Linked DNA regions of Homo sapiens: all the other regions are linked to region 1. The links come from fine-mapping of genetic effects on gene expression. A gene starts in region 1. Each other region holds a variant in brackets. All regions are shown on one strand. Distances are between the middles of the regions. Region 1 holds the start of PEX6 (peroxisomal biogenesis factor 6). Region 2 holds the start of LOC124901318 (a long non-coding RNA gene). Region 3 overlaps PPP2R5D (protein phosphatase 2 regulatory subunit B'delta). Region 4 holds the start of LINC02976 (long intergenic non-protein coding RNA 2976). Region 5 overlaps CNPY3-GNMT (CNPY3-GNMT readthrough).

Region 1 (6,073 bases):
ATGAGGTTTCACCATGTAGGCCAGGCTGGTCTCGAACTCCTGACCTCAAGTGATCTGCCTGGCTCAGCCTCCCAAAGTGCTGGGATTACAGGCATGAGCCACTGCGCCTGGCCTTTTTTTTTTTTACACAATGAAGGTTTATTTTTTTGTCACTCTTATGTCTGTTATGGCGAACTGGTGAGTCTTTACTCAGTAACCCATGGAAATGGAACAACTATTATCTGTTCTACAACTTTCTTCTTGAAGTAAAGGCAGAAACCAAAAACTTTCCTTGGATGTATTTAATAAAATATTAAAACTAAACACCAGGCACCAAAGATAATAAAGACTCCTTTCCTTCAAGGTATTTACAATATATAATTGGGGATTAAACAGATTATGTAATCATAACAAGATAGAATAAAATAAATGCCATAAAAAAGATAGAAAATGCTATAGGAGGAAGTTCTAAATTCGTGGCTGTGAGATCATGAAAGGCTTTGTGATAAAGGTGTCATCTTTAGATGGCTCTTGAGGGAAAGGAGGGTAGGATTTTAACAGATGAGGCTAGAATAATAGGAAACAATTTGAAGTCAAGGATAAGAATGAGCAAAAGCACAGAGACATCATCCTCCATATTATAAAGCACAATACTGAATACATTGTAGCAATTCAATAAACTAATTAGATTGAGTAGATTAACATACACATCTGAAACCTCACTTTTTTTTTTTTTTTTTTTTACACAGAATTTCGCTCTGTCGTCCAGGCTGGAGTGCAGTGGTGTGATCTGGGCTCACTGCAACCTCCACCTCCCAGGTTCAAACAATTCTCCTGCCTCAGCCTCCCAAGTAGCTGGGATTACAGGCATGCACCACCACACCCAAACTTCACCTTTCACCTGAATGGATGAAAGCCTTTTGTATGCCCCACTACATTATGGAGGCTTATGATATTTTGATTACAGAATATGGATCAATAGGCCGGGTGAGGTGGCTCACGCCTGTAATCCCAACACTTTGGGTGGATCACCTGAGGTCAGGAGTTCGAGACCAGCCTGACCAATACGGTGAAACCCCGTCTCTACTAAAAATTACAAAAATTAGCCGGGCGTCGTGGCGCGAGCCAGTAGTAGGAGGCTGAGACAGGAGAATCGCTTGAACCTGGGAGGCGGAGGTTGCAGTAAGCCGAGATCGCATCACCACATTCCAGCCTGGGTGACAGAGCAAGACCCCATCTCAAAAAAAAAAAAAAAAAAAAAAAAAGGAAAGAAAGAAAAAGAAAATAGATAAATGAGGCTAAGAAACATTATGCTTTTTTTTTTTTTTTTTTGAGACAGAGTTTCACTCTTATCGCCCAGGCTGGAGTCCAATGGCGCGATCTTGGCTCACCGCAACCTCCGCCTCCCAGGTTCAAGCGATTCTCCTGCTTCAGCCTCCCAAGTAGCTGGGATTAGAGGCATGCACCACCACGCCCGGCTAATTTTACATTTTTTTAGTAGAGACGGGGTTTCTCCATGTTGGTCAGGCTGGTCTCGAACTCCCGACCCCAAGTGATCCGCTCGCCTCGGCCTCCCAAAGTGCTGGGATTACAGGCGTGAGTCACCGCGCCCGGCTAGAAACATTATGTTCAAAGTCCGGGATGATATGGGGCACGAGTCCTAAATCTTCCAATTTACCTAAGACAGAGAAGAGGGTATAAGAAAGAGGAAGCACTCCTGACCCCAGTCCTTTATCCTACCTGAATTCTGAGCTCTCCCATTTCCAGGGGGTCACAGCCAAGATTAAAAGCCAAAGTGGCAGGGACAAGCGCCAGTCCGTCAGCGAGGGGCTCTCCCAGCGGTCCAGAGCCGGGTCCCAGTCTATCAGAGAGGTCCCAGCGAGGTTCTAGGACCTGCACCCTAGCCAAGTGCGGCTGTGAAGTGTTCGATGACTCTCTGGCCTGGGCCACCCACACCCATTCGCCCTGGAAGAGGCCAAGGCCACGGAGACAGCTCCGGCTCACCCCTAGTGAATCTCCAGTCCCTCCCAGAACTCCCTGGAGTCGCCGCACTGTGCCAGAAACCGCAAAGGAGGACACCACGGGCGGGGGTGGGGGCCGACTGCTGTCCCCAGACTCTGGACACAGTCTGGCCCGCCCGCGGAGCTCAGTCACAGCCAGCCGAGTCCCTGGGCCCAGCAGCCCTTGCAACGCCGGCCGCGTCTCCAGCACCCGCGGTCCGGGCACTGGGAGGGTCTCTCCGCGCCTCACCAGCAGCGGCCCGACTCGCGGTCCGAGCCCAGGCCCCAGCGAGGTGCCAAGCAGTGCCCAACCTAGCGCCGGGGGCCGCCGCACCGCCCGCGCCCGCACCCAGGCCCCGGAGCCCAGTGCCAGGAGCCGCAGCAGCGCGCGGCTAACCAGTAGCTGCGGCGGCCCGGGACCCTGCTCTTCGGTGCCCGCGTCCGGCCCCTCCAGGGCTGCCACCAGCAGCGCCGGCCCTGCCGGGCTCTCCCCTGCAGGCCTCAGGGCCAGCACCAGGCCCAGCTCCGCCGCCGGCCACGGGCCCCCGGGTGGCAGCAGCACTGCCAACGGGGGTGTCTCGGTCGGAAAGGGCTCCAGGACCCGCAAGACAGCCAGCGCCATGGTGACAGGACACCAACGAGGAGGGTGAAGGAGCGCAGCTTCCGGAGCCAGAGAGCCAGACGACTAGTGTGCGCGAGGGCCGCTTCCGCTTCCGTCAGGGGAGGCCAGAGGAAAAGGGGAGGGGGGTCGGGTGCCGCGAACTTGCTCTGAGGGGGTTAGCTGCGCCTCGGATTGATCTGCGTCGTGCCTCGATAGGCAGTAACCTTCATCGCTGCGGTTGCGTAGCGTTTACCCATGCGCCATTTGAACTTGTGCTTAAGGGATTTATCTTTGCCTTCTACGGAAGTAATGTTCTCTTAACTATTTTTCCCCGTGGCATGAACGTAACAGTTTATTGACTGATAAATGAACAGTCAGCATGCTCGGGATGACTGGGCCCAGTACTGGGAGCTCTAGGTGAAATGTTTCGGAAGGAGTCCGCTCCTCTGCGGAGCTCCTGCAGCTTCCCCTGTGGAACTGTGAGCACTGAGGTTTGAGGGTTGCAGGAAAGGTTGCAGGAGGGAGTAGCAGGATTAGAAAACTGTCTCACACTTGCTTATAGGTATATAGTGGCTGCTGAGTGAATTACTAGATGTGATTCATACAGCCCTGGAGTGCTTGGTGCCACCACACATGTTCCAGCACATCTGGCACAAAACCCATGTTCCAGGACTTCTTGCCCTGTTCATTGTTCTGTTTGTTTTACTCCCACCAAACTTAAGTTGAAGACAAAACAGCTTTTCTTTCACCCCCCCCCCCCAAATCCTTGCAGATCGGAAACCCATTCACTTTCTATCCTAGAGCGGGGCAGGCAGCAGAGCAGGCAGAAGGAAAGGAGTTCAAGGCTTCTGTCAGCATAACACCAACAGTCGACTTCCTGCGTGTGCTGTTATTTAGATTCCATCCTTCTCTTCACCTCCACTGTTCTGTACAAGACACTCAGCTAGTGGTAGGCCACATTTCCTTTTTTATGGCAACAGGGTCCTACTCTGTCACCCAGGTTGGAGTACAGTGGCACGATCCCCATTCATTGCAGCTTCTACCGTCCCAGGCTCAAGTGATCTCCCACCTCAGCCTCCCGAGTAACTGTAGCCGGGACCACAGGCACACGCCACCATACCCAGCCAATTTTTTTTTTGAGACGGAGTTTCGGTCTTGTTGCCCAGGCCAGAGTGCAATGGCACGATCTCAGCTCACTGCAATCTCCGCTTCCCAGGTTCAAAGAATCTCCTGCCCCAGCCTCCCAAGTAGCTGAGATTACAGGTGTGTGCCACCACACCCAGCTAATGTTGTATTTTCAGTAGAGACGGGGTTTCACCCTGTTGGTCAGGCTGGTCTCGAACTCCTGGCTTCAAGTGAGCCACCTGCTTACGCCTCCCAAAGTGCTGGGATTACAGGCATGAGCCACTGCGCCTGGACTAATTTTTTATTTTTTGTAGAGACAGAGTTTCTCTGTGTTGCCTAGGCTGGTCTCAAACTCCTGGTCTGAAGAGATCCTCAGGCCTCAGCCTCCCAAAGTGCTGGGACTACAGGCATAAGCCATCATGTCCCACTGCATTTCCAATTATTAACAATTATTTTCACTTACAATAAATGAATTGGATGGTGCCAATCTCCATTTTCTAGACCTTACATTCTCTTTCAGCTACTGCTCAGCTTTCTCCATCTCTCCTTTCTTCTTGAGGCAGTCTTCTATTTTGTACATTATACATTCCTGAAAATTTGAAAGACAAATATATGAAAACTATTAGATTTGCATATTATAAGGGGCTGGGCGCAGTGGCTCATGGCTGTAATCCCAGCACTTTGGGAGGCCAAGTGGGTGGACTGCTTGAGGCCAGGAGTTTGAGACCAGCCTGGCCAACATGGTGAAACCCCGTCTCTACTAAAAATACAAAAATTAGCTGGGTATGGTGGTGTGTGCCTGTAGTCCCAGCTACTCGGGAGGCTGAGGCAGGAGAATGGCGTGAAGCCGGGAGACAGAGCTTGCAGTGAGCCGAGACTGCGCCACTGCACTCCAGCCTGGGTGACAGAGTGAGATTCCGTCTCAAAAAAATAAATAATAGAAAAAAATAAATAAAATAGCATGCAAGAATGTACTAACCAGGAACCATGGCTTGTGTCTATAATCCCAGCTATGGGGAGGCTGAGGCAGAAGGATCACTTGAACCCAGGAATTTGAGGCTATGATTGTGCCACTGCACTCCAAGTGGGTGACAGAGCAAGACCTTGTCTCTTAAAATATATAAAATTAAAAGAAAAAAAAACTAAATAAAGAATGTTCTAGGTACCTAGATTCACATGGATGAAAGTTCCCATTTGGTAGTGCTACTATATGTTTCTTGGTCCCCTATGTCCCAGAGGAACCAAGGGCTAGATAGATGGTACATGGGCCTAAAGAGGATATGCCTGCTTTCCTCAGTAGCAGGCAAGCTCTAGGCCTCAGGACTATAGTGCTCCTTGAGGCCTTGGAGATGGGTAAAAACATCAGTTATCTTGCCTGGATCAGCACTCATACAGACACAAATACCCACCCACAAATAAATGTCCTTTTCTCCCAAGCTTTTCTCCCAGCAGGTAACAGCGGGCATGTAGTCCACTTTGTGTTACCCTGAAATCGTCATTAGTCACCGAAAGCCAAATACTACTTCTGTAAGATCGCCAGGACCCTACATTTGCCATCTTCACTTCCTCACCTCTTGATGCTCACTCTTCCACTCACTAAAAACGGTCTTCCACTCTCTGAAAAAATCACCCATAATCTTCTAATTGCAGAATCAAGATGATGCTGTTCTTTCTCTGACACTACTGACCAATTGTCTTTTATTTCCTTTGCCATTATGACACCAGTTGTCCTCCTACAACTCTGATCACTTCCAGAAATCATCCTCAACTCTTCCCTTTCCGTTACCGTCCCCCCCACAATACAATGAATCACCATATCCTGTTGATTCTACACATTTTCATGCTCCATCCTCTCTTCTCCATCCCCACGGCCACTGTCTTGTAACATTGCTCTCCTGGGTACCTGGGTAAGGGACACAGGTTTTGTGTTTTTTTTTTTTTTTTTCAGATGGAGTCTTGCCCTGTCGCCCAGGCTGGAATGCAATGGTGCGATCTCGGCTCACTGCAAACTCCACCTCCCGGGTTCAATGGATTATCCTGCCTCAGCCTCCTGAGTAGCTGGGATTACAGGCACCCACCGTCATGCCTGGCTAATTTTTGTATTTTTGTAGAGACGGGGTTTTGCCATGTTGGCCAGGCTGGTCCTGAACTCCTGACCTCAGGTGATCCGCCCTCCTCAGTCTCCCAAAGTGCTGGGATTACAGGCGTGAGCCACTGCGCCTGACCTTTTTTTTTTTTAAGACTAAATATTTTATTTTATATAGAATTTTAAAAATTTATTTTTTGTACATGAATAAGTTCTTTAGTGGTGATTTATGAGATTTTGATGCAGCCATCACCCAAGCAGTGTATACTGTACCCAATGTGT
Region 2 (5,881 bases), 60 kb after region 1:
CAGAGGAGGGGAAGAAAGGGGCAAAACGGAGGAGCTTGTGGGAGTAAGAACTGTGCTAGAACAGTTCTTTCTGGGCCTATGCCATCAGATGGAATACACATTCAGGTTGCTGGGTGCCTGCAGTGGCCACAGGGGTCAGTGACCTCACCTTCATCATGTCAGTCTTACTTAGGGAAGGCACCAAGGAACCACATTCACTGTTGGCAATGGTGGCCAAAATAGAGACTCACTGGCAATGCCTTCATTCACCACGTCAAATGCTTCCATACCTGTTACTTGTCGCAGTCCCACAGTGACTGGGCCAGTTCCACAAACGAGGAGAATTAAACCCTGCTCGATAATCTGCCCAAGTTACAAACCATCTGGTGAGTGGCCAAGTTGGGCTTGGATCTCCAGCCTGCCAGATGAAAGCACTTCTGACCACACACCCTCTGAGAAGGGGCTGAGTGCCATCATCCTGCCTGGTCCTCTCAATCTCTGCCTAGAGGGGGTGCTAAGTCACACCTGACTCCCTCTGCCTTTCTCCCAGTCTACCATCCTCACCCTAACAAGACCCTTGGCATATCATGCGACAGCCTCAGTGCCAAGGGCTCCTTCTCCACCAGCAAGGAAAACCCTCCCACCTCCCCACTCAAATCTCTAGCAGTCGCCAAACACACACGTCATATAATCAAACTCTTGGGTTTTATTTCTGTAAAAGCTCCAGCTCTACCTTCCCCTGACCCCAAGTCTAGGGCTACCGGAAGGTAGAGAAGCTCTGGGTGGCAGTGCAGGAGGCATAGGGCACACCCCGGGAGCGAATCTGTAGGGTATGGAAGGTGAGGGGTGGGTTGGGGCCTGAGGAGCCTGGGTTCAGGGACTCAGTGTGAGGCTCCATGACAGTCACAGGGACTGCATAGGACAGCACCTGGGGCCGGTCGTCATGGCGTCTCAGCGTGCCCTTGCCCAGGAGGTGTAGGATGCAGGAGAGGACGTCAGTGCTGCTGCATGCAGACCCCTTACCAAGGCTGCTGACCAAACCCCTGGGAGGACACGGGCCCTTCTGCCAAGCCTCCAGCACCTGGTGTGGGGGAGGAAGGGAGAAGCGGTAGTTTAGAGGCAGCTGACCCCTCCTTGCTTGAGCTTCCACTCCAACCACCAGCTGCTAGGACAGGATGCCCCAAGGACACGAGGTACATCCCGACCTCACTCCTCACACTCCTACAGGCTACACAGTGAACCAGGTGCCTCACCACACGTGCACCCACCTTGTCCTGTAGACTGCTCCCCCAACCCCAGCAAAGATCTGTCACCCATTGTGCCCACCCCTGCCTACCAGACAGACAAGCTGGTCAATGTGCAGCCCCTCATCTCCATGGGCCTTGAGGATTCGGACGATGAGGCAGTTCAGAAGATTCCGTCTCTTCTCCAAGTTCTGGCCGTCTTCACCCTCAGCTTGCAGGTACGTCTGAGGTGGGATGAGCCGCACAATGTCCCATCTCGACCTGGGTTCCTTGCTGCCATCTCGAATCTTGAGGACCCCTGAAATAAATGCTGATCACTCACTCAGTGGAGAGCCCACGAGGAGCCTGGCCCTGCCTCAGAGCAGAGGCCCCTCTGGCCCTAAGTGCATACCTCCTGGTATATCCTTTTGCTCGTGAAGGTCCAGGGGGCCTCTTGAAGAGGTGAGGGGCCCAATCGCCTGATTGAGCATGTCTGCGGAGAGCCCTGAGAACGCCAGCAGACTCTCCACAGAGACCGCCTTCAGAGAACAGATGGGAGACATTCAGGGCCTCCCCAAGGAGTGGAGAGAAGAGGATGGAGGGAAGAAGCAGAGGGAGTCAAGGTTTTGGGAAGAGAGGCAAGGGACAAAGTGGGAGACAGGAGAGAGGTGCAGCGGGGCTGGGCCACCTTCAGGTCGTTGAGATACAGCAGTAGCCACATCTGCACGGTGGACACATGCAGGGTCTGGTTCCCAAACTGCAGCTCAGCCCAGCCCAGCCACGTCCACTGCAGTCGCCTCTGTGAGCCTCGCTCAAGGGCAGGGTGGCTCTGACCTGGACCAGGAAGGGGGAGGGAGACAAAGAGCAGGTGAAAGGAGGGAGTTGGTGTTGGAGGGAGGGTGCACGCTGGTCACGCTCTGTTTATCTCTGCAAGGCGTGTGACCCCAGCATTTATGGACACTGGGGCTTCTGGTCTGAGCTTCCAGATCTCAGCCTTCTCTGGGCCTGCCTCTATGGCAAGCCTCAGGATCTGGGAGCTATCCTATGCCTAGCCTGGTGCCAAGCAGGTTCTCATCAGTGCCTTCGAGGATTGCCCCATGTGTTTTTAGGGAGACAAAACCATGAAGGGAGGAAGGACTGGGGCTCTTATCAAGCTGGAATATTATGACAGGAAACAATGTCTCCCCTATTAGGAGGCGCCCTGACCACAGGTCTGAGCCTCTTCCCCCTCCTGTGTTGCTGCCAGCTCAGGGATCAGCCCCCGATGGGGAGTTTAGGATGACAGGTGACTGACCAGAAAAGAGCCAGACACCTACTCATATCTGGTGGCCTCAGGTGCCTCCTGCCTCCATCCTCCCCGTCACCCACAAAGAGATTCCCAGGTCTTATTTTAGAACAGAAAAAGCAATGGTCTGGGGATCAGGTATCTGACAGCACCTGCCACCCCCAGCCACCAAGCTCCTGCCCTTTGTTCTCAAAACCACTGTTTTTCCCATGGCCTAGGGAATTCTTATCCCTAAAGACTATCTCTCCCTGAATCTATAAAAACAAAAATTAAAAATGTAAATTAAAAGACCAACTCTTTTTTTTTTTTTTTTTTTTTTTTGAGATGGAGTCTCGCTGTCGCCCAGGCTAGAGTGCAGTGGCACGATCTCGGCTCACTGCAACATCTGCCTGTGGGTTGAAGTGATTCTCCTGCCTCAGCCTCCCGAGTAGCTGGGACTACAGGCACACACCACCACACCCGGCTAATTTCTGTATTTTTAGCAGAGACGAGGTTTCACCATGTTGGCCAAGGCTGGTCTTGAACTCCTGACCTCAAGTGATCTGCCTGCCTCGGCCTCCCAAAGTGCTGGGATTACAGGCGTGAGCACTGTGCCCAGCCAAAGACTATCTCTTTTTACATCAAGCCTCCCAACATCAGGGTCTGCCCCCAACCCCAGGTCCTTTCCTAGCAGCCCACCCTCTCCCCAGTCCCCAGTCCCTCTGCCTGGCTGCTCACTCTTGTTGTAGAAGTTGGAGTATCTGTTCAAAGTGCCCCTCAGGTAGGAGGGCAGGCAGGTTCTGGGGTTCAGTGTGTGGCAGATTGAGGCAACAGGCCAGGAGTGTCGGGACAGGACAAGCACAGACACTTCTGGCATTGCCCCTTCATAGTAGAGGTCCTCATTCTCCTCCTCTTCCTCCTCTCCCTCCGCCACATCCACCACTGCTGCTGCCCCAGCTTCCTCTTCCTTCTCGCTCTTGTGCTCCTTGCCACTGGCCCCAAGGCCCACCTGAAGGAGCACAGGGTTCCCAGATGCCATGGCCTCCTCCAGTCTGCTCCACGCCCCTCTTCCCCCTACCCTCTTATTTGCTTATCCCTTCCAAGGCACTCACCTGTATTTTCTTCTCTGTATCCTCCAGCTT[C/T]AGGAGTTCCTGATCCAGCTGCTGGAGCTGGTAGACGTGGAACTGGCGCTGCAGCTCCTTAGAGGTGCTCAGGCTCTGCAACATCTGCTGGGGGAGGCGGTTGGGGAAGCAGGGACCGATCTGCTCCAGCACGGCCCCCTCCAGCCAGCTCGAGACCACGCCCAGGAGACGGTCCGCCATGTAGTGCCTGCAGTGCATGCAGCCCGGGCCAAGCCTCAGTGTGGGCACCAGTGTGGCCCAGCCTCCCACTCCAAGGCTCCAGCCTGCCTCTATCCCAGACTTCCAGGCCCATGAGCTGGCTCTGCCACCATCATCCTGCCTCCCGCCAGCTCCCGCTCCTTAGGTCCACACTCACTGGTAATAATGCTCAAAAGTGGTGGCTATCTCCAAGCCGGAGAAAATCAGGACAGCTTGCAGGCATTGCTGCAGCTGTGCCAGCCTCTCCATTTCCTGGGCTCCACCGATCCGGCTGCCCTGGATCTGCTGGTCAATGTGCCGGGCGAACTGCTCACTCACCTGAGCAATGGCAGAGCACAGGAAAGCCATGAATGAGCGAGCAGAGCAGGTGAGTGGGGAGGAGGGATGAGGGTCTGGAAAGTAGATATGAATGCTGGCAGCTTTCTAAGGTGGTTGGTGCTTTCATACAACTATTTTATAAGATCATTAACCATTGTACAAATTAGCAATATTAACAATTATGGAAAGTGTCTTTTCACATTGTGTCTAAAAAATCAAACTAATAATAATCATTCAAAATGAGAAAATAAGACCAGGCGCAGTTCACGCCTGTAATTCCAGCACTTTGGGAGGCTGAGACAGGCAGATGGCTTGAACCCAGGAGTTGGAGACCAGCCTGGGCAACATGGCAAAACCCCATCTCTACTAAAAATACGAAAAAATTAGCTGGGCATGGTGGCACACGCCTATGGTCCCAGCTACCCAGAAGGCTGAGAGGACCACCTGAGCCCAAGAGGTTGAGGCCGCAGTGAGCTGTGACTGCACCACTGCATCCCAGTGTGGGAGGGAGTAAGACCCTGTTAAGAAAGAAGTAAAGAAAGAGAAAGAAAGGGAGAGAAAGAAAAAGAAAGGAGAGGAAAAGAGGGGAGGGAAGGGAAGGGAAAGGAAGGGGAAGGGAAGGGAAGGGGAAGGGAAGGGAAAGGGAAGGGAAGGGAGAGGTGGCTCATGCCTGTAATCCCAACACTTTGGGAGGGTGAGGCGGGCGGATCACGAGGTCAGGAGTTCGAGACCAGCCTGACCAATGTGGTGAAACTCCGTCTCTACTAAAAATACAAAAATTGGCTGGGCGTGGTAGCATGCACCTGTAATCCCAGCTACTTGGGAGGTTGAGGCAGGAGAATCGCTTGAACCTGGGAGGCGGAGGTTGTGGTGAGCTGAGATCGAGCCACTGCACTCCAGCCTGGGCAACAGAGCGAGACTCCGTCTCAAAAAAAAAAAAAAAAAAAAGGAAGAAGAAAGAAAGAGAGAAGGAAAGAAAGAGAAAGAGAGAAAGAGAAGGAGGGAGGGAGGGAGAGAAGGAGGGAGGGAAGGAGGGAAGGAGGGAAGGAAGGAAGGAAGGAAGGCAGGAAGGGAGAAAGAGAGAGAGAAAGAAAGACGGACACAAGGAGGTAAGTTACATACACAAAGATGGTCCTGATGCAGTGTCACTGATAAACTAGGACTGGAGGCTACACAAGGAGCCTCATGTTCCTGCTGCTCTGTACCCTGCTTTCCAGGGTGCTTCTTGCATTTTAGCTCATCAATTGTGGGGGGTTTTTTTGTTTTTTTCTTTTTTTTGAGATGAGTCTAGCTCTGTCACGCAGGCTGGAGTGCAGTGGTGCAATCTCGGCTGACTGCAACTGCAACCTCCACTTCCTGGGTTCAAACGATTCTCCTGCCTCAGCCTCCCAAGTAGCTGGGAATACAGGCATGTGCCACCATGCCTGGCTAATTTTTGTATTTTTAGTAGAGATGGGGTTTGGCCATGTTGGCCAGGCTGGCCTCAAACTCCTGCCCTCAGATGATCTGCCTGCCTCGGCCTCCCAAAGTGCTGGGATTACAGGCATGAGCCACCACACCTGGCCACTATTTATTTTTTTCAATTTTTTAAACTTCTTATAACATGGCTATATACTAACATATGTTCATCATAGAATGGGAATGGAAGGGTGGGTCATTTGGAGGAGGTGAGGAAGGGAGAGTTTGTCGGAAGAGACCCAAGGATGAGGCAAGGGTAGAGGCTTACGTGGGCAGCTTTGAGAAAAGGGAGCTTCAGC
Region 3 (6,073 bases), 20 kb after region 1:
TATTAAATACTTTCTATAGTGCTTAAATTATATTGTTATCTCTTTGTTTTTTTATGTATTTATTTTTGAGACAGACTCTTCCTTTGTTGCCCAGGCTGGAGTGTCTTGGCTCACTGCAACCTCTGCCTCCCGGGTTCAAGTGATTTTTGTGTCTCAGCCTCCTGAGTAGCTGGGATTACAGGCGCCCGCTACCACGCCCGGCTAAATTTTGTATTTTTATTTATTTTATTTATTTTTATTTATTTATTTTTTGAGACGGAGTTTCGCTGTTGTTTCCCAGGCTGGAGTGCAATGGCGTGATCTCAGCTCACTGCAACCTCCGCCTCCCGGACTGAAGTGATTTTCCTCCCTCAGCCTCCTGAGTAGCTGGTATTACAGGCATGCACCACCACATCTGGCTAATTTTGTATTTTTAGTAGAGATGGGGTTTCTCCATGCTGGTCAGGCTTGTCTTGAACTCCTGACCTCAGGTGATCTGCCCACCTCAGCCTCCCAAAGTGCTGGGATTACAGGCGTGGGCCACTGTGCCTGGCCGTTTTTATTTTTATTTTTATTTTATTTTATTTTTTGAGATGGAGTTTCGCTCTTGTTGCCCAGGCTGGAGTACAATGGCGCGATCTCAGCTCACTGCAATATCTACCTCCCGGGTTCAAGCAATTCTCCTGCCTCAACCTCCCAAGTAGCTGAGATTACAGGCGCCCGCCACCATGCCCTGCTAATTTTTGTACTAAAAGTACATTTTGTACTAAAAGCTAATTTTGTATTTTTAGTAGAGACAGGGTTTCACCATGTTGGTTAGGCTGGTCTCCAACTCCTGACCTCAGGCGATCCGCCCACCTCAGCCTCCCAAACTGCTGGGATTATAGGGGTGAGCCACCATGCCCAGCCAACTTCTGTATTTTTAGTAGAGACGGGGTTTTGCCATATTGTCCAGGCTGGTCTCGAACTGTTCTCAAGTGATCTGCTGCCTTGGCCTCCCAAAGTGCTGGGGTTACAGACGTGAGCCGCCATGCCAGGCCCCTATCTCTTTATTTATATTTGAATATTTGGGTTTTATTTATATATATATATATATATATATATATATATATATATATATATTTTTTTTTTTTTTTTTTTTTTTTTTTTTTTTTTTGAGACGGAGTCTCACTCTGTCACCCGGGCTGGAGTGCAGTGGTGTGATGCTGGCTCACTGCAACCTCTGCCTCCCGGGTTCAAGCAATGTTCCTGCCTCAGCCTCTTGAGTAGCTGGGAATACAGGTGCGTGCCACCACGCCCAGCTAATTTTTGTATTTTTAGTAAAGATAGGGTTTCACCATGTTGGTCAGGCTGGTCTCAAACTCCTGATCTCGTGATCTGCCTGCCTCGGCCTCCCAAAGTTCTGGGATTACAGGCATGAGCCACTGTGCCCAGCGTGGGTTTAATTATTAATGATGGCCGTGTTCGGAATAGGCTGGACCAGGATAGGTTCAGAGTAGGCACGTTTAGTTGGAATTTTCTGAGTATGAGTGTCGTGTGGAAATTCACAGTGCCACTTGATTGCTGGAGGCCTGAATCTAGGAAGGCTTCTTGGAGTATGGATCCTGTTGAGAGTTTGGAAGTGAAAGTAGTAGTACTTCAGGCAGAAGAGATGGCCTCTATGGAGTCCCAGAAGTGAGGGCCAGGTATGGTGGCTCACACCTGTAATCCCAGCACTTTGGGAGGCTGAGGCGGGTGGATTGCTTGAGCTCCAGAGTTTGAGACCAGCCTGGGCAACATGGTGAAACCCTGTCTCTACAAAAACTACAGAAAAGTAGGCCAGGCACGGTGGCTCACGCCTGTAATCCCAGCACTTTGGGAGGCTGAGGCAGGCAGATCACTTGAGGTCAGGAGTTCGAGACCAGCCTGGCCAACATGGTGAAACCCCGTCTCTACTGAAAATACAAAAATTAGCCAGGCCTAGTGGTGCACGCCTGTAATCCCAGCTACTCAGGAGGCTCAGGCAGGCGAATCGTTTGAGCCTGGGAGGCAGAGGTTGCAGTGAGCTGAGATTGCACCACTGCACTTCAGCCTGGGTGGCAGAGTGAGACCCTGTCTCAAAATAAATAAATAAATAGAGTCCCGAAGTGAAACTGGGCAGGACAAAGTAGCGAGTAGAGGACAGATTGGCCAAGTTGCCTTTGGTCAGTGTCCACCCCTGCTTTGATGGCTGCAGAAGCTTCTCAGGGGACTCACTTGCCTTCTACCCCCAACCCAGGTGAATGCACAAGTTAGTGGCTGGGGCTTTTAAGAGAAATGGTTGAATGCCCATGAGTAGTTGACATATCCCCCACCTCCCTCTGACATGCATGTTTCCTAGTGAAGGGTGAATAGACAGCGGATACCTCATTGGGGCTTGGCAGCCAGGGGCTTCGCTGGCAGAAACAGCTGTCTCTCAGATGCTTCTTGTGTCTGGATCTTGGGAGCCAATGGTCCTTATAAACCAGGGCAGCTCAGTGGGGTAGGGGGCAGGGCAGACTAAGCCCATTCAGCTGCTCTCCAGCCACTCTAGCCTTCAATAACACAATGCTAGTGTAGAAAAGACCTTAGATATCAGCTCATTGGGTGGTTTTTATTTTGTTTCATTTGTTTTGTTTTGTTTTTTTCTGAGATGGAGTCTTATTCTGTTGCCCAGGCTGGATTGCAGTGGCACGATTTCGGCTCACTGCAACCTCTGTCTCCCAGGTTCAAGTGATTCTCCCACCTCAGCCTCCTGAGTAGCTCGGATTACAGGCCCCCACCATCACGCCTGGCTAATTTTTTGTATTTTTAGTAGAGATAGGGTTTTGCTATGTTGGCCAGGCTGGTCTCCTGACCTCAGGTGATCTGCCCGCCTCGGCCTCCCAAAGAGCTGGGATTGCAGGCATAAGCCACCATGCCTGGCCATTGGTGGAGCATAAGACCCCCTGTTCTCTCTAAACCTTACCGGAATAATCGTTGGGAAACCACTGATCTAGTCCTGCCACCTCTTTTTTTTTGAGATGGAGTCTTGCTCTGTCGCCCATGCTAGAGTGCAGTGGCGTGA[G/T]CTCGGCTCACTGCAACCTCCGCCTCCCAGGTTCAAGCGATTCTCCTGCCTCAGCCTCCGGAATAGCTGGGATTACAGGCGCCCGCCACCACGCCCAGCTAATTTTTGTATTTTTAGTAGAGACGGGGTTTCACCATGTTGGCCAGGCTGGTCTCGAACTCCTGACCTCCTGATCTAGCCACCTTGGCCTGCCAAAGTGCTGGGATTACAGGCGTGAGCCACCACGTCTGGCCACCTTTTTTTTTTTTTTTTTTTGAGATAGAGTCTTGCTCTGAATCCCAAGCTGCAGTGCAGTAGTGTGATTTTGGCTCACTGCATCCTCTGCCTCCTGGGTTCAAGCAATTCTCCCATCTCAGCCTCCTGAGTAGCTGGGGCTACAGGCGTGCACCACCACACCCAGCTAATTGTTTTTTTGCATTTTTAGTAGACTCAGGGTTTCACCATGTTGGTCAGGCTGGTCTTGAACTCCTGACCTCAAGTGATCCACCCGCCTTGGCCTCCAAAAGTGCTAGGATTACAGGCATGAGCCACCGTGCCTGGCTACCTTCTTGTTAGCAGAAAACATTGAGGCCTTCCTTTTCCCTTTCTGGGAAGAATGCCCCTCTCTGGCTGCCTCCTCAGTGTGAGGTGTGTGGAAGTACAGGGTGTCTGCATCTTACCTGGAAGGATGGAGTCTTGTTGTCAGGTTGGCACTGAGCCCCTCACCCTAGTATCACTGATGTTTCTCCTTCAGACTCTGCTCCTAATGCTGTATAGCCCCCTGTTCTGAGGATTCCTGAGTTGGGGCAGGAGAGGAAGAGTCTGTGGGGAGGAGCCTGGGCAGGACCTGAGAGCTTTGGCTCCTGGTCAACCAACCAACCAAACCTTCATTGAATTCCTATTAGGTGTTAGTGCTGGGGGCACCCAGAGGGGTACAAACAGGGTCCTGGCTTTCAAAGGACTTGCCATCTAGTTAGGGGAATGACACATGAAGAGACTAAGAGGTGTCACTAGGGGGTGAGCAGTCACAGCGCCAAGGGAAGAGACAAGTGGTATCAAAAAGAGGGGGTGACACCCAAGGGCTGGAAAGATCTGAGAAGACTTTTTGGAAGAAGGTGGGACTTAAACTGAGTCTTGGAAGATGCAGTGATTTCCTAGGTTCCTGATTTTCTTCCTTTTCTTTTTCTTTTTTGAGACAGAGTTTCACTCTTGTTACCTAGGGTGGAGTGCAATGACATGATCTCAGCTCATTGCCAAGATCAAGCAATTCTCCTGCCTCAGCCTCCCGAGTAGCTGGGATTATAGGCATGCGCCACCTCGCCCGGCTAACTGTATTTTTAGTTGAGTTGGGGTTTCTCCATGTTGGTCAGGCTGGTCTTGAACTCCCAACCTCAGGTGATCCACCTGCCTCGGCCTCCCAAAGTGCTGGGATTGCAGGCATGAGCCACTGTGCCCGGCCAGGATCCCCCATTTTTAAATGAGGATAATGGACTCAACGGAACATTTGAGTTGTGCTAGCATAGGAAGGAGATTCTAGGCTGCATTCCTAAAACCTGGATATGGGAAATAATAGTAATAGTAGTGGTGGTAGTAGAAGGTACCTCTTATAAAATGCTTCTTTAGGGCTGGGCACGGTGGCTCACACCTGTAATCCCAGCACTTTGGGAGGCTGAGGCGGGCGGATCATGAGGTCAGGAGATCGAGATCAGCCTGGCTAACATGGTGAAATTCCGTCTCTACTAAAAATACGACAAAAAATTAGCCGGGCGTGGTGGCACGCACCTGTAATCTCAGCTACTCCGGAGGCTGAGGCAGGAGAATTGCTTGAACCCGGGAGGCAGAGGTTGCAGTGAGCTGAGATTGCGCCACTGCACTCCAGCCGGGTGACAGAGCCAGACTCTGTCTCAAAAAAAAAAAAATGCTTCTTTAGTGCGTGACAGAGCCAGACTCTGTCTCAAAAAAAAAAAAAATGCTTCTTTAGTGCGAGGAACTGTTCATCTCTATCCTTACGATAGTGCTATAAGGTAGGTATGGTTGTCATCCCATTTTGTAGATGAGAAAACTGAGGTGCAGACTTTCTGGATATTACTCAGCTAATAAGTGGCGAGCCAGGATTGAACCCAGGCAGGCAGTCTGGCCCAAGGTGTTATTGAGCACCAAGCTCCACAGATAAGGGTTTGGTTGTTCTTTTTTTTTTTTTTTGATTCGGAGTCTCGCCCTATCACCCAGGCTGGGGTGCAATGGCATGATCTCAGCTCACTGCAACCTCTGCCTCCCGAGTTCAAGAGATTCTCCTGCCCCAGCCTCCCGAGTAGCTGAGATTACAGGCACGTGCCACCACGCCCAGCTAATTTTTTGTATCTTTAGTAGAGGCAGGGTTTCACCATGTTGGCCAGGCTGCTCTCAAACTCCTGACCTCGTGATCCGCCCGCCTCTGCCTCTCAAAGAGTTGGGATTACAGGTGTGAGCCACCGTGCCTGGCCTAGTTGTTCTTAAGGCAGGGAAATGGAGGCCTGAGGCAGAGGAGTGTCTGGATACACACCAAGTGCTGGCCCCCAACCTGCTTTTCTCTTACTACCACTTCCCCCACCCCAAGGTGCAACTCATCTGCCATATGTAGAAAGGGAGACCTCAGACCTCCAGATGCCTTGCCATGTCTAATACACGGGACCCACAGGCTGGACCCGGTGCTCCTCTCCTGTTCTCTCATCCCTAGATAGGTGACAAGTCCACATCATTGTTTTTATAAAAAATTCAGAGGATGCAATTAATAACATTTCTGTCTTCCTTCCCTCCCCCACCCCAGAGGATTTCAAGTTCTTCTATTATTATGGTAAGGAGTAAGAGTTTGGGATGGGAGCTGGAGAGGAGCGGGAGATGGCAGGTATGAGGCCAAGAGGTCACCTTTCCCTTTCCCTGTGGTGAGGGTACCCAGCTGGACATGGCCTCTGCCTAGTCCTATTCTAGACTCTGTTTGGGGGCAAGGGCTGTCCTGTGGTTTAGCTTCTTTCCTCTCCCAACAGGGGGCTGCCTGGACAGTCCAGGAGTACC
Region 4 (6,073 bases), 40 kb before region 1:
GCAGCAGAAATTTGTATGAATTTTGCACTCAGTAATAAATCTGTGTTTGCTTTAATAAAAAGTGTTTAAGAATTATTTTTCATAGCAGGAAAAAAATGAGAAACAATCTAACTCTACCAATAGGGGATTAAATACGTTGATCCAGCCGTTTGGTGGACTAGTATGCGGCTGGAAACGAAGCATGGGGAGGCTCTTTAGGAACTGAATTCAATTGATTTTCAAGGTTTTTGTGTGTTTGTTTGTTTTGGAGACAGAGTCTCACACTCTGTTGCCCAAGCTGGAGCGCAGTGGTGCGATCTCAGTTCATTGCAACCTCCACCTTCCAGATTGAAGCTATTCTCCCACCTCAGCCTCCTGAGTAGCTGGGATTACAGGCACCGACCACCACGCCCGACTAATTTTTGTGTTTTTTAGTAGAAACGGGGTTTCACCATGCTGGCCAGGGGGTCTCGAACTCCTGACCTCAGGTGATCAGCCCACCTTGGCCTCTCAAAGTGCTGGGATTACAGGCATGAGCCACTGCACCCAGCCCTTCAAGGTATAAGTAAAAAGGGCAAGTGCAAAATAGTGTGTATGCTATACCACTGCTTGTGTAAAAAGGCGGGGGGAGGATATATTTAGATATTGGTATTTGTATGAGTTATCTCTGGGAAAATAGAGGAAATGGATAGTATGTTTTCTCTGGGGATAAGACCTAGGCAGCTAGCAGAGATAGTTTTTACAGAATAAAGGGTCTACCTGCCTCAGCTATGCCTTTTTCCCACTGAGGAAAGACACAACCCAGGAAGAACGGAACAGCAGGTCTGGATGATATGGGAGTGTTTCCAGCCATAGTGAGGGGAAAGAGCTAAGACAAACCTATTTCCTGGAAAAGAAGCATAAAGCCAAAGGGCCTGAGGGCAGCCGCAGGTCTTTTTGAAGCGATGAGGTGTGCAGAGGCAGATCAGGGGGTATATGTGCAGGGGTTGTGGGAAGCAGGCCTAAAAGAGGGAAGAGGAAGGTCAGGTCAAGGATGAGGCCAGGTGCGGTGGCTCACGCCTGTAATCTCAGCACTTTGGGAGGCTGAGGTGAGTGGAAAACTTGATGCTAGGAGTTCGAGACCAGCCTGACCAACATGACAAAACCCCAACTCTACAAAAATTAGCCGGGTATGGTGGCACGCCTTTGTAGTCCCAGCTGCTTGGGAGGCTGAAGCAGGAAAATCGCTTGAACCTGGGAGGCAGAGGTTGCAGTGAGCTGAGACGCTCCAACCTGGGCGACAGAGTGAGACTCCTTCTCAAAAAAAAAAGGATGAGGATCCTTAGAGGGCGTTGAGCATTGGTCTTATAGCTGGGTTCTTAGCCACCACTGGGAGACGAGGGTGGGAGGGAGAGAAGGGAGCTCCGCCTGCCATATCTGGTCGCTTCTTCCAGGGCATGTCAGAGACCTTTGAGACATTACACAACCTGGTACACAAAGGGGTCAAGGTGGTGATGGACATCCCCTATGAGCTGTGGAACGAGACTTCTGCAGAGGTGGCTGACCTCAAGAAGCAGGTACAGGCCCTTCAGCCCTTGGAAGGGTTGCTGTGCCCAGTGAGGGGCTGGTGGGGATTGGGTCTGCTCTGAGGAAGTCCACCCAGGCCGGGGTGGCTTTGGTCAGGTCATTTCACCTCTCTGGCCTCAGTTTCCTTAGGTGAACCGCTGCCACTGCCTACCTTGCAGTGGGTTGCGAGGCTTAGCTGAGCTCCTCTAGGAGCGAGTCAGGTGCTGGGGCTTTGCCAATATGAGGTATTATGATTAACAGTGTGATGTGCTGGTGGAAGAGTTTGAGGAGGTGATCGAGGACTGGTACAGGAACCACCAGGAGGAAGACCTGACTGAATTCCTCTGCGCCAACCACGTGCTGAAGGGAAAAGACACCAGTGAGTTTGGGGAAGCAAGGGCAGGCTGGCTCTGGATGATTTGTTTGCTCTCCCTTGGGGGAGGTGGGTAGGAGGAGAAACAGAGGGCACCAGAGGGCATTGTAGGATCTCTGCCCTTGAAAGGCTTGATTGGCAAGACATGGTGAAGTAAGAGTCACTGAAACCAGGTGCAGAATGATGGGCAGACAAGTCAGATGCCCCCAGAGGGGCCTGGTGGCCACAGCGAGAGGCAGGAGGCAGGGAGGCTGATGTCAAGCACAGTCCCAGTTGCTACTCCCACGGCTCCCTGCTCAGTGCTCCTTGCCCAGCACCCCAGCCCTGAGGCACTTCTGTTGAGGGTCTCTCTCCTCCACACCCTAGGTTGCCTGGCAGAGCAGTGGTCCGGCAAGAAGGGAGACACAGCTGCCCTGGGAGGGAAGAAGTCCAAGAAGAAGAGCAGCAGGGCCAAGGCAGCAGGCGGCAGGAGTAGCAGCAGCAAACAAAGGAAGGAGCTGGGTGGCCTTGAGGGAGACCCCAGCCCCGAGGAGGATGAGGGCATCCAGAAGGCATCCCCTCTCACACACAGCCCCCCTGATGAGCTCTGAGCCCACCCAGCATCCTCTGTCCTGAGACCCCTGATTTTGAAGCTGAGGAGTCAGGGGCATGGCTCTGGCAGGCCGGGATGGCCCCGCAGCCTTCAGCCCCTCCTTGCCTTGGCTGTGCCCTCTTCTGCCAAGGAAAGACACAAGCCCCAGGAAGAACTCAGAGCCGTCATGGGTAGCCCACGCCGTCCTTTCCCCTCCCCAAGTGTTTCTCTCCTGACCCAGGGTTCAGGCAGGCCTTGTGGTTTCAGGACTGCAAGGACTCCAGTGTGAACTCAGGAGGGGCAGGTGTCAGAACTGGGCACCAGGACTGGAGCCCCCTCCGGAGACCAAACTCACCATCCCTCAGTCCTCCCCAACAGGGTACTAGGACTGCAGCCCCCTGTAGCTCCTCTCTGCTTACCCCTCCTGTGGACACCTTGCACTCTGCCTGGCCCTTCCCAGAGCCCAAAGAGTAAAAATGTTCTGGTTCTGATTTCTGAGTCCTCTGCAGCCCTCAGAGGTGCCCTGGAGCCTCTTGTTCTTTCCTGCCCCTCGCCTTCCAGCCCGTGGGGCTGAGGAGGGGAAGGCTAAAACCCACCCACTCTCGGGAGCAGCAAGTGCTGGGAAGGCCCAGGGTTGTCTTGGGGTGAGGGGAGGCATGGGCATAGGATGAGGCCCAGGGCAGTGCACTGACCTTACGCTGCTCCCTCGTGTCCTGGACACCTGGCTGCCGTTCCCTCCCTCCCTCTCTCCTGCTGCTCCTCTTCCCAAGGCCTCCCATTTGTTGTGTAAAATGCAGTGTTTACCTGGCCAGCTCC[C/T]GCCCCTGTTCCTACTTCCACCTGGCCTTGACTGTTGGTCCTGAACCTTGTTTTCTGATGACCACACTTGATCACTCTGAGGTTCCTAGCTGTTGTACCTGGAGTGCAGTTGGGAGGACACCCGGTTCCCAACACCATCTGGTCACACCATGTTCCTCAGGGCCAAGGGAGGAGCAGAGAGGCTGGCCTCTAGGGAGAAGGGGTGGGGAAGCTCAGGCACCTCCCAGTTTGTCCTGAAGGCAGGGATCGGGGCAATTGGTACAGTAGTGATGACAATTGTATGTATTCAAATTGTATGCTTTAACTTTTACTATTACCACACTCTTGTGAGGTGTGCTGTTAACCTCATTGTGTAGAGGAGAAAACAGGCTAGAGTCAAGTGATATGCTTGGAGTCAGGTGACCTTGGAGTCAAGGTCCTGCTGTTAAGGAGTGGTATAGCTGGGACGCAGACACTGGCGTTCAGATTACAAATCCATGGTACTTCCACTCTCCACAGCTGCCAGGGCCTCTTCCCCCAACCCCTGGCACTGACAGTGTGAGTTGTATCGAACTGGTTTAGTTTCTTGGCCTTAACCTGTCACCACCACCAAGATTCTTTTTGTTTTGTTTTGTTTTGTTTTGTTTTTTTGAGGCGGAATCTCACTCTGTTGCCCAGGCTGGAGTGCAGTGGTGTGATCTTGGCTCACTGCATCGTCTGCCTCCCGGGTTCAAGCAATTCTCTGCCTTAGCCTCCCGAGTAGCTGGGATTACAGGCACCTGCCACCACGCCCAGCTAATTTTTTTGTATTTGTAGTAGAGACGGGGTTTCACCATCTTGGCCAGGATAGTTTTGAACTCCTGACCTCATGATCCATCTGCCTCGGCTTCCCAAAGTGTTGGGATTACAGGTGGGAGCCACTGCGCCTGGCCTAACCACCACCAAGATTCCTAAAAGGCGAATAGGAAGCAGCTGTGGCTTATTGGAAGGAAAGAATGGCAGCAAGTCCTGGGGGAGCTGTGCCCGCACCAGATCTCCCGTGAGCACCCACACTGCAACTCTACCTCACACTTCCAGGCTAGGCCCAGTGGGTAGGAGGGATACACTGCTGAAGCCTCCCTGCGTCCATTGCAGCGGCTCTGGGGGCTGAACTGGGAGTGAGGGGCCCCCTCATAGCCTGGTCCCAGCCTCTCCCCCTCTACCAGGTTAGGGCAGCCAAGGCCATAGAGAGTGGAACAGAATGGAATCTGTCTCTCCTTAAGCTGTTGAGGATGACGCCAGGTCCTGGGAAAATGATACTGTCTTGGTCCAGCCTCCACCTCTGCATCTCCAGGACTGATGTTCCCCCTGTTAAAGGAGCTGGTGAGCAGTGAGATTACAGTCTAGATGCAGGTCTTGTCCTGGACTTTGTTCTGAGCATAGAAAATGGCTGGGGGTGAGGTGGAGGGGCTGGTACCCAGGGCAGGGATGTGTTTCCTGCCCCCTGAACTGTCTAGGATTTGGTGGCCACCCTCTGATTCCCCCATTCTATCACTAACAGCACTTCAAGGCCTGGCTTACTTCTGTCCCCACAGCTTCATTGATTTTTTTTTTGTTTTTTGTTTTGTTTTGAGTCTTTTTTTTTTTTTTTTTGAGACAGAGTCTCACTCTGTTGCCCAGGCTGGAGTGCAGTGTCACAATCTCAGCTCACTGCAACCTCCGCCTCCTGGGTTCAAGTGATTCTCTGCTTCAGCCTCCCAAGTAGCTGGGATTACAGGCAACCGCCACCACACCCAGCTAATTTTTGTATTTTCAGTAGAGACGGGGTTTCCCCATGTTGGCCAGGCTGTTCTCGAACTCCTGACCTCAAGTGATCCACCTGCCTTGGCCTCCCAAAGTGCTGGGATTACAGGCAGGAACTACCATGCCTAACCCTTTCCCCTACCTTTCTTTTTTGGAACAGGATCTCCCTTTGTCACCCAGGCTGGAGTGCAGTGGCGTGATCATGACTCACTGCAGGCCTCAACCTCTCAGGCTCAAGTGATCCTCCTGAATAGTTGGGACCATAGGTATGCACCACTGTACCTGGCTAATTTAAACATCTTATTTTTTGTATACCAGGTGTGGAGGCTCACACCTGTAATCCTAGCACTTTGGGAGACCAAGGCTGGAGGATCGCTTGAACCCAGGAGTTCGAGACTAGCCTAGGCAACATAGTGAGACCATGTGTCTAAAAAAAGAAAAAATTATTTAAATACTTTTTTATTTGTTTGCAAGAGTCTCACTCTGTCACCCAGGCTGGAGTGCACTGGCACAATCTTGTCTCACTGCAACCTCTTCCTCCTGGGTTCAAGTGATTATCCTGCTTCAGCCTCCCGAGTAGCTGGGATTACAGCCACACACAACCACGTCTGGCTAATTTTTGTATTTTTAATAGAGACGGGGTTTCACCATGATGGCCAGGCTGGTCTCGAACTCCTCACCTCAGATGATTCACCCACCTCGGCCTCTCAGAGTGCTAGGATTATAGGTATGAGCCACTGTACCCGGCCAATAATTTTTTTAATTTTTAATTTATTTTTTGGGCCTGGGGTGGTTTCAGCCTCTTATTTGGGAGGCTGAGGCAGGACAATTGCTTGAAACCAAGAGGCGGAGGTTGCAGTGAGCCGAGATTGCACCACTGCACTCCAGCCTGGGTGACAGAGTGAGACTCCATCCCCCGCAACCAAAAAAAAAAAAAAATTTGTAGCAACAGGGTCTCCACATGTTGGCCAGGCTGGTCTCAAACTCCTGGACTCAAGCAATCCTCCCATCTCGGCCTCCCAAAGTGC
Region 5 (6,073 bases), 29 kb before region 1:
TATTAGTGTTACGACCCACTGATATAGAGACCTATTTGACAACTAACAGGACTTTCTTAAAAGTCCAAAAAAGGATCTGCTTTGATAATTCTGCTAGGAGATCCAAGTGGGTGGGTGGATCTGCTAGCACCACTCCTCAAGTGTTTCAATGTTCAGTCTGGGGTAGATCCAATTAGCAGAGAAGAATTTTTATGCAATGGCTTGGACTAGAGTTTGGAATTTGGCAGTCATCACTGGAAAAATGAATTTCTGCCTGTTCTGAATCAAAACAAAACAAGCCATGTGCAGTACACACCTGTAGTCCCAGCTACTTGGGAAGTGACTTGAGAGGATCACTTGAGCCCAGGAGTTCCAGTCCAGCCTGAGCAACACAGTGAGACCCTCATCTCTAAAAAGCAAATAAAAATAAAAAACACCAAAACAACCAGGATGTCTCCCATTCGCAGTTATTGTATCTACATAATTCACAATTGCAGGATTTTAATGTGTCCTCAAATAGGACTTGGAGTTTGTCCAGTTACAGCCACATTCCCAAGATGAAGTCTTTTTGCAAACATGTCACACATTTAGGAATGAAGAATTTAGTCTTTTCAGCCAATTCCAAATAATGTGTCCCACATTTAAAATATCACCTGTTCTTCTTTTCTTTTCTTTTTTCTTTTTTTGAGATGGAGTCTCACTCTGTTGCCCAGGGAAGTGCAGTGGCGCGATCTTGGCTCACTGCAACCTCCACCTTCCAGGTTCAAGTGATTCTCCTGCCTCAGCTTCCTGAGTAGCTGATTACAGGTGTGTGCCACCACACCCGGCTAATTTTTGTATTTTCAGTAGAGACAGGATTTCACCATGTTGGCCAGGCTGGACCTATTCTTATTTTCAGTGAAGTCAAACAGTAAATTGATTTATATTCTGTGATCTTTTCCATGGCCCAGGGCATCTAAAATTTACAGAGAGATGGCCAGGCATGGTGGTCATGCCTGTAATCCCAGTACTTTGGGAAACCGAGGCAGGTGGATTGCTTGAGCCCAGGAGTTTGAGACCAGCCTGGATAACAAAGTGAGACTGTCTCTACAAAAATAAAATAAAATTTATAGAGACGAATTAAGTAAAATAAAAAGCAGTTTTAATATATTTTAGTGGGCAGGACATGGACAATTTGTAGATGAAGGATTGCAATTATTTGGTATATTTTGGCAATAATTAAAGAAGATATAATAGATATAATTAGATACAATATTCTACCTAATGAAATATCAACGAATAATATGTAAAGAAGAGTTCAAACACGCCGGGTGAGGTGGTTTATGCCTGTAATCCCAGCACTTTGGGAGGCTGAGGCAAGAGGATCACTTGAGCCCAGGAGTTGGAGACAAGCTTGAGTGACACAGACATACCAAAAAAAAAAAATTAGCCAGGCATGGTGGCGCACCCCCATAATGGCAACTACTCAAGAGGCTGAGGTGGGAAGATCGCTTGAGCCTGCAAGTTCGAGGCTGCAGTGAGCTATGATCACACCACTGTGTTCCAGCCTAGGCGACAAAGCAAGACCCTGTTTTAAAAAAAAAAAAATTAAATTTTAAAAAGGAGTGACCCTACTACCTCCTTCAGCATTCCTTTCCCACACAAAGCAAATGGAAAAGAAAGTAATAATAAAGGGAAAAATAATAAACTGCCATAAGCCACTTAACATTTCAAATATTGTATATATAGCCAATCTATTTGTAGACAGTGACAAAGAAATTATTCCCGTATCATCTTGGTTATTATTCCAATCACTCTTCATTCTCCAGACTTTTTTTCTTTTTCTTTTTCTTTTTCTTTTTTTTTTTTTATTTGAGGCAGAGTCTCCCTCAGTCATCCAGGCTGGAGTACAGTGGCACAATCTCGGCTCACTGCAGCCTCTGCCTCCTGGGTTCAAGCGATTCTCCTGCCTCAGCCTCCCAAGTAGTTGGGATTACAGGCGCCTGCCACCACGCCCAGCTAATTTTTGTCTTTTCAATAGAGACAGGGTTTCACCATGTTGGCCAGGCTGGTCTCCAACTCCTGACCTCAAGTGATCTGCCCACCTCGGCCCCCAAAAGTGCTGGGATTACAGGTCTCAGCCACCGCTCCTGACCAAGCATGCATTTTTAAGGCCGGGCAAGGTGGCTCAAGCCTGTAATCCTAGCACTTTGGGAAGCGAGGCAGGCGGATCACGAGGTCAGGAGTTCGAGACCAGCCTGGCCAACATGGTGAAACGCCATCTCTACTGAAAATACAAAAAAATTAGCTGGGTGTGTTGGCGCATGCCTGTAATCCCAGCTACTTAGGAGGCTGAGGCAGGAGAATCACTTGACGGAATCTTACTCTGTCACCCAGGCTGCAGTGCAGTGGCTTGATCTCAGCTCACTGCAACCTCTGCCGCCTCGGTTCAAGTGATTCTTGTGCCACACCCTCCCAAGTAGCTGGGACTACAGCCGCGTGCCACCACGCCCGGCTAATTTTTTTGTATTTTTAGTAGAGATAGGGCTTTGCCATGTTGGCCAGGGTGGTCTGGAACTCTTGACCTCAAGTGATCTGCCCCCCTCGGCCTCCCAAAGTGCTGGGATTACAGGTATGAGCCACCATGCCCAGACAAGATAATTAACATGAGATTAAAAAAAAAAAAAATCTAAGGGTAGTGGAGTAAATTTTCCCCAGAATATTCTGTAAAATAAAGAGTGGATTTACTTATAATTCTCCAATTCAGGCTTTTTTTTTTTTTTTTTAGACAAAGTCTCACTCTGTCACCTAGGCTGGAGTGCGGTGGCACAATCTCAGCTCACTGCAACCTCTGCTTCCCAGGTTCAAGCAAATCTCCCTGCCTTAGCCTTCTGAGTAGCTAGGATTACAGGTGCCTGCTACCACGCCCAGCTAATTTTTGTATTTTTTAGTAGAGATGATGTTTCACCATGTTGGCCAGGCTGGTCTCAAACTCCTGACCTCAGGTGATCCGTCCGCCTCAGCCTCCCAAAATGCTGGGATTACAGGCATAAGCCACCATGCCCGGCCCCAATCCAGGCTTTCTAAACCTGTTGCCAAAGATGCATCTGTAGGATCAGATACAAAAAAATTAGCTGGGTGTGGTGGTGCATGCCTGTAATCCCAGCTACTTGGGAGGCTGAGGCAGGAGAATCGCCTGAACCCAGGAGGTGGAGTTTGCAGTGAGCCAAGATCGTGCCATTGCACTCCAGCCTGGGCAACAAGAGCGAAACTCCATCTCAAAAAAAAATAAAGAATAGCAAGGACACCAAGCACCCCCATTCCCGGCCCTGGACTTTGTCCATGTGTTAATGGTGGAGGGTGTCCAGGTTCTTGGCATCTTGAACGAACAATTGGACAAAATGCACAAACAAGGAAGGAATGAAGGGTTTTATTGAAAATGAGCCGGGCGCGGTGGCTCACGCCTGTAATCCCAGCACTTTGGGAGGCTGAGGCGGGCCGATCACAAGATCAGGAGATTGAGACCATCCTGGCTAACACGGTGAAACCCCATCTCTACTAAAAATACAAAAAAATTAGCCAGGCGTGGTGGTGGGCACCTGTAGTCCCAGCT[A/G]CTTGGGAGACTGAGGCAGAATGGTGTGAACCCAGGAGGTGGAGGTTGCAGTGAGCCAAGATTGCGCCACTGCACTCCAGCCTGGGCGACAGAGCGAGACTCCATCCCAAAAAAAAAAAAAAAAAAAAAGACAATGAAAGTACACTCCACAGTGTGGGAGCGAGAATGAGCATAGGGGCTCAAAGGCCCTGTTAAAAATGTTTGTGAGTTTAAATACCCTCTACTTGGGGAATGCCCTATGTAAATGAAGAAGATGAAGTAAAGTTACAATTGCAAAGTTATTAATGATGTATGCCCTAAGGAGAGGATATTTCCTGTTATAGATGAAGTGTGAATTGGCCTTATGTTACCTGCCTCCAGACCCTATTTTCCTGCCTCATCTGCCCCCTGAGATGTGATCCCCATAAATCTTTATGGGAGGCAGAGGGACAGATGGTCTTTTTTCTGTAACTGCTTCATGCTGGCTTGGGGGATGGTCCCCACCTATTAGGGATCATGGAACTCTCACCCTGCTCTGTCTAGTGGAGGCAGGGTAGCTTTTTGATGGCCAGGGGTGATGTCTTCACCTGGAACTGGCTGGAAGCTTTGTTGCATGATCAGCTGAAGCTTGATGGTCTCTAGGCAAGAGGAAATGAATTTGGTTAAAACATTTAATGGGAACTGCAGGGGGTGGATACCTATGCTGTTAGAAATGTTTGTTATATTGACCAGGCGCAGTGGCTTACGTCTGTAATCCCAGCACTTTGGGAGGCCGAGGCAGGCAGATCACGAGGTCAGGAGTTCAGGATCAGCCTGGCCAACATAGTGAAACCCTGTCTCTACTAAATACAAAAAAATTAGCCGGGCGGGGTGGTGCATGCCTGTAATCCTAGCTACTCAGGAGGCTGAGGCAGGAATGTTGCTTGAACCTGGGAGGTGGAGGTTGCAATAAGCTGAGATTGAGCCACTGCACTCCAGTCTGGGGGCGAGGGAGTGAGACTCCGTCTCAGAAAAAAAAAAAAAGAAAGGTTTGTCATAGAGATTTGCAGGAGAAAAAAAACTTGGTCTGTTTTAGAATCTATGTGTTTCCTTAAAGTCCTAGCATGAGCGACTCCATTTTGGTTTGGTTTGTTGAGGCCTAGTGCATGAGCCTAGTCCAAAACAATGGCCTTCCATAATTTTGTTTAAAAAATTACCCTTTTTGGTTAGGCTGTCATTTAAGTGAGAGTGTGACCAAACCTTAGGGACTTAGCGCCACTCTCAGTTACCATCATTTTGGGTTTCCTATCTCAGCACATCATTTATAGCTTATAGTGTCCTTATGGTTGCACATTTTTTTAGCTCCTGTTATTCCAGTTGAAGAGAGACCATTTGACATTCTAGAGATGGCTGCACGCAAGCATTTAAAACCTTTGAGAGAATAGAGCGCACCAGGGAGACTATTATTATGACTATCGGGAGGATGATACCAAGAGTTTGGAGTATGCTCCTTACCCAGGTTCCCCATAAACCAAACCACCTAAAATCACATAGATCAAAGAATGAACTAGATAAAGAGTTTACTCATGGCCGGGCGTGGTGGCTCATGTCTGTAATCCCAGCACTTTGGGAGGCCGAGATGGGCAGATCACCTGAGGTCGGGAGTTCAAGACCAGCCTGACCAACATGGTGAAACCCCGTCTCTACTAAAAACACAAAATTAGCCAGGCATGGTGGTGCATGCCTGTAGTCCCAGCTACTCGGGAGGCTGAGGCAGGAGAATCGCTTGAACCCGGGAGGCAGAGGTTGCGGTGAGCCGAGATCGTGCCATTGCACTCCAGCCTGGGCAACAAGAGCAAAACTCCGTCTCAAAAAAAAAAAAAAGTTTACTCATTTGACTAAGCAGTCTCTTTGTTAATCCCCTACCACTATATTTCTATAATCTTCATGTGATGTATTTCTCCGTAGGCCACAAGTGCCAGCAGCTGCACAGATACTTCTCTGTTTAGCCAATTCTATCTTAACTTTCACAAGAGAATTTAAAGTCTATTGTATAACTGTAGCCTTTACAGTAGAATTTGCTATAGAACCCATCATGAGGGATACTTTTTTTTTTTTGAGACGAAGTTTCGCTTTTGTTGCCCAGGCTAGAGTGCAATGGCACCATCTTGGCTCACTGCAACCTCTGCCTCCCGGGTTCAAGCGATTCTCATGCCTCAGCCTCCCGAGTAGCTGGGATTACAGGTGCACCACCATGCCCAGCTAATTTTTATGTATATATATATATATATTTTTTTAGTAGAGATGGGGTTTCACCACATTGGCTAGACTGGTCTCAACCTCCTGACTTCAGGTGATCCACCTGCCTCGGCCTCCCAAAGTGCTGGGATTACAGGCATAAGCCACCGTGCCTGGCCCCATTAAAGTTTTTTACCTGCACTGGGCCTTCATTTTTTATCTATTAAAGTATAAAGTTATCCATATATAAGGTTGGCTGCAAACTCCTTCACAAATAAAAGTACATCCCATTAGTGCACATAACAG

Evidence for each region.
Region 2: its variant is fine-mapped to the expression of PEX6 in unexposed skin (GTEx, PIP 0.96).
Region 3: its variant is fine-mapped to the expression of PEX6 in whole blood (TOPMed, PIP 0.92).
Region 4: its variant is fine-mapped to the expression of PEX6 in pancreas (GTEx, PIP above 0.99).
Region 5: its variant is fine-mapped to the expression of PEX6 in whole blood (TOPMed, PIP above 0.99).

Annotation. Positions count from the first base shown.
Region 1 is chr6:42,976,550-42,982,622 of GRCh38, forward strand. It overlaps PEX6 (peroxisomal biogenesis factor 6), which reads right to left and starts at 2,632. Exons shown (of 17, transcript NM_000287.4): 1 at 1,720-2,632. The coding sequence starts at 2,601. It overlaps LOC124900215 (a long non-coding RNA gene), which reads right to left. Exons shown (of 2, transcript XR_007059580.1): 2 at 3,993-4,294. RefSeq lists enhancers at 1,892-2,833, 2,994-3,043 and silencers at 2,204-2,583, 3,238-3,434, 4,673-4,891.
Region 2 is chr6:43,036,952-43,042,832 of GRCh38, forward strand. CUL7 (cullin 7) reads right to left here. Exons shown (of 26, transcript NM_014780.5): 19 at 5,851-5,881; 20 at 3,964-4,124; 21 at 3,579-3,795; 22 at 3,205-3,475; 23 at 1,891-2,036; 24 at 1,615-1,741; 25 at 1,316-1,521; 26 at 666-1,060. The coding sequence ends at 737. It overlaps LOC124901318 (a long non-coding RNA gene), which reads left to right and starts at 4,085. Exons shown (of 2, transcript XR_007059581.1): 1 at 4,085-4,173. The variant C/T (reference allele first, on the strand shown) is at 3,609.
Region 3 is chr6:42,996,958-43,003,030 of GRCh38, forward strand. All of the region lies in intron 2 of PPP2R5D (protein phosphatase 2 regulatory subunit B'delta), which reads left to right. Among named protein-coding and RNA genes, the nearest start is that of MEA1, 14 kb to the right of the region's middle. The variant G/T (reference allele first, on the strand shown) is at 3,044.
Region 4 is chr6:42,936,305-42,942,377 of GRCh38, forward strand. CNPY3 (canopy FGF signaling regulator 3) reads left to right here. Exons shown (of 6, transcript NM_006586.5): 4 at 1,413-1,535; 5 at 1,786-1,903; 6 at 2,264-2,990. The coding sequence ends at 2,487. The region is part of intron 1 of CNPY3-GNMT (CNPY3-GNMT readthrough); the gene reads left to right. It overlaps LINC02976 (long intergenic non-protein coding RNA 2976), which reads left to right and starts at 4,189. Exons shown (of 5, transcript NR_186646.1): 1 at 4,189-4,302; 2 at 4,469-4,625; 3 at 5,206-5,311. RefSeq lists an enhancer at 2,300-2,802. The variant C/T (reference allele first, on the strand shown) is at 3,285.
Region 5 is chr6:42,947,934-42,954,006 of GRCh38, forward strand. All of the region lies in intron 1 of CNPY3-GNMT (CNPY3-GNMT readthrough), which reads left to right. It overlaps LINC02976 (long intergenic non-protein coding RNA 2976), which reads left to right. Exons shown (of 5, transcript NR_186646.1): 5 at 1-427. Among named protein-coding and RNA genes, the nearest start is that of GNMT, 9.8 kb to the right of the region's middle. The variant A/G (reference allele first, on the strand shown) is at 3,572.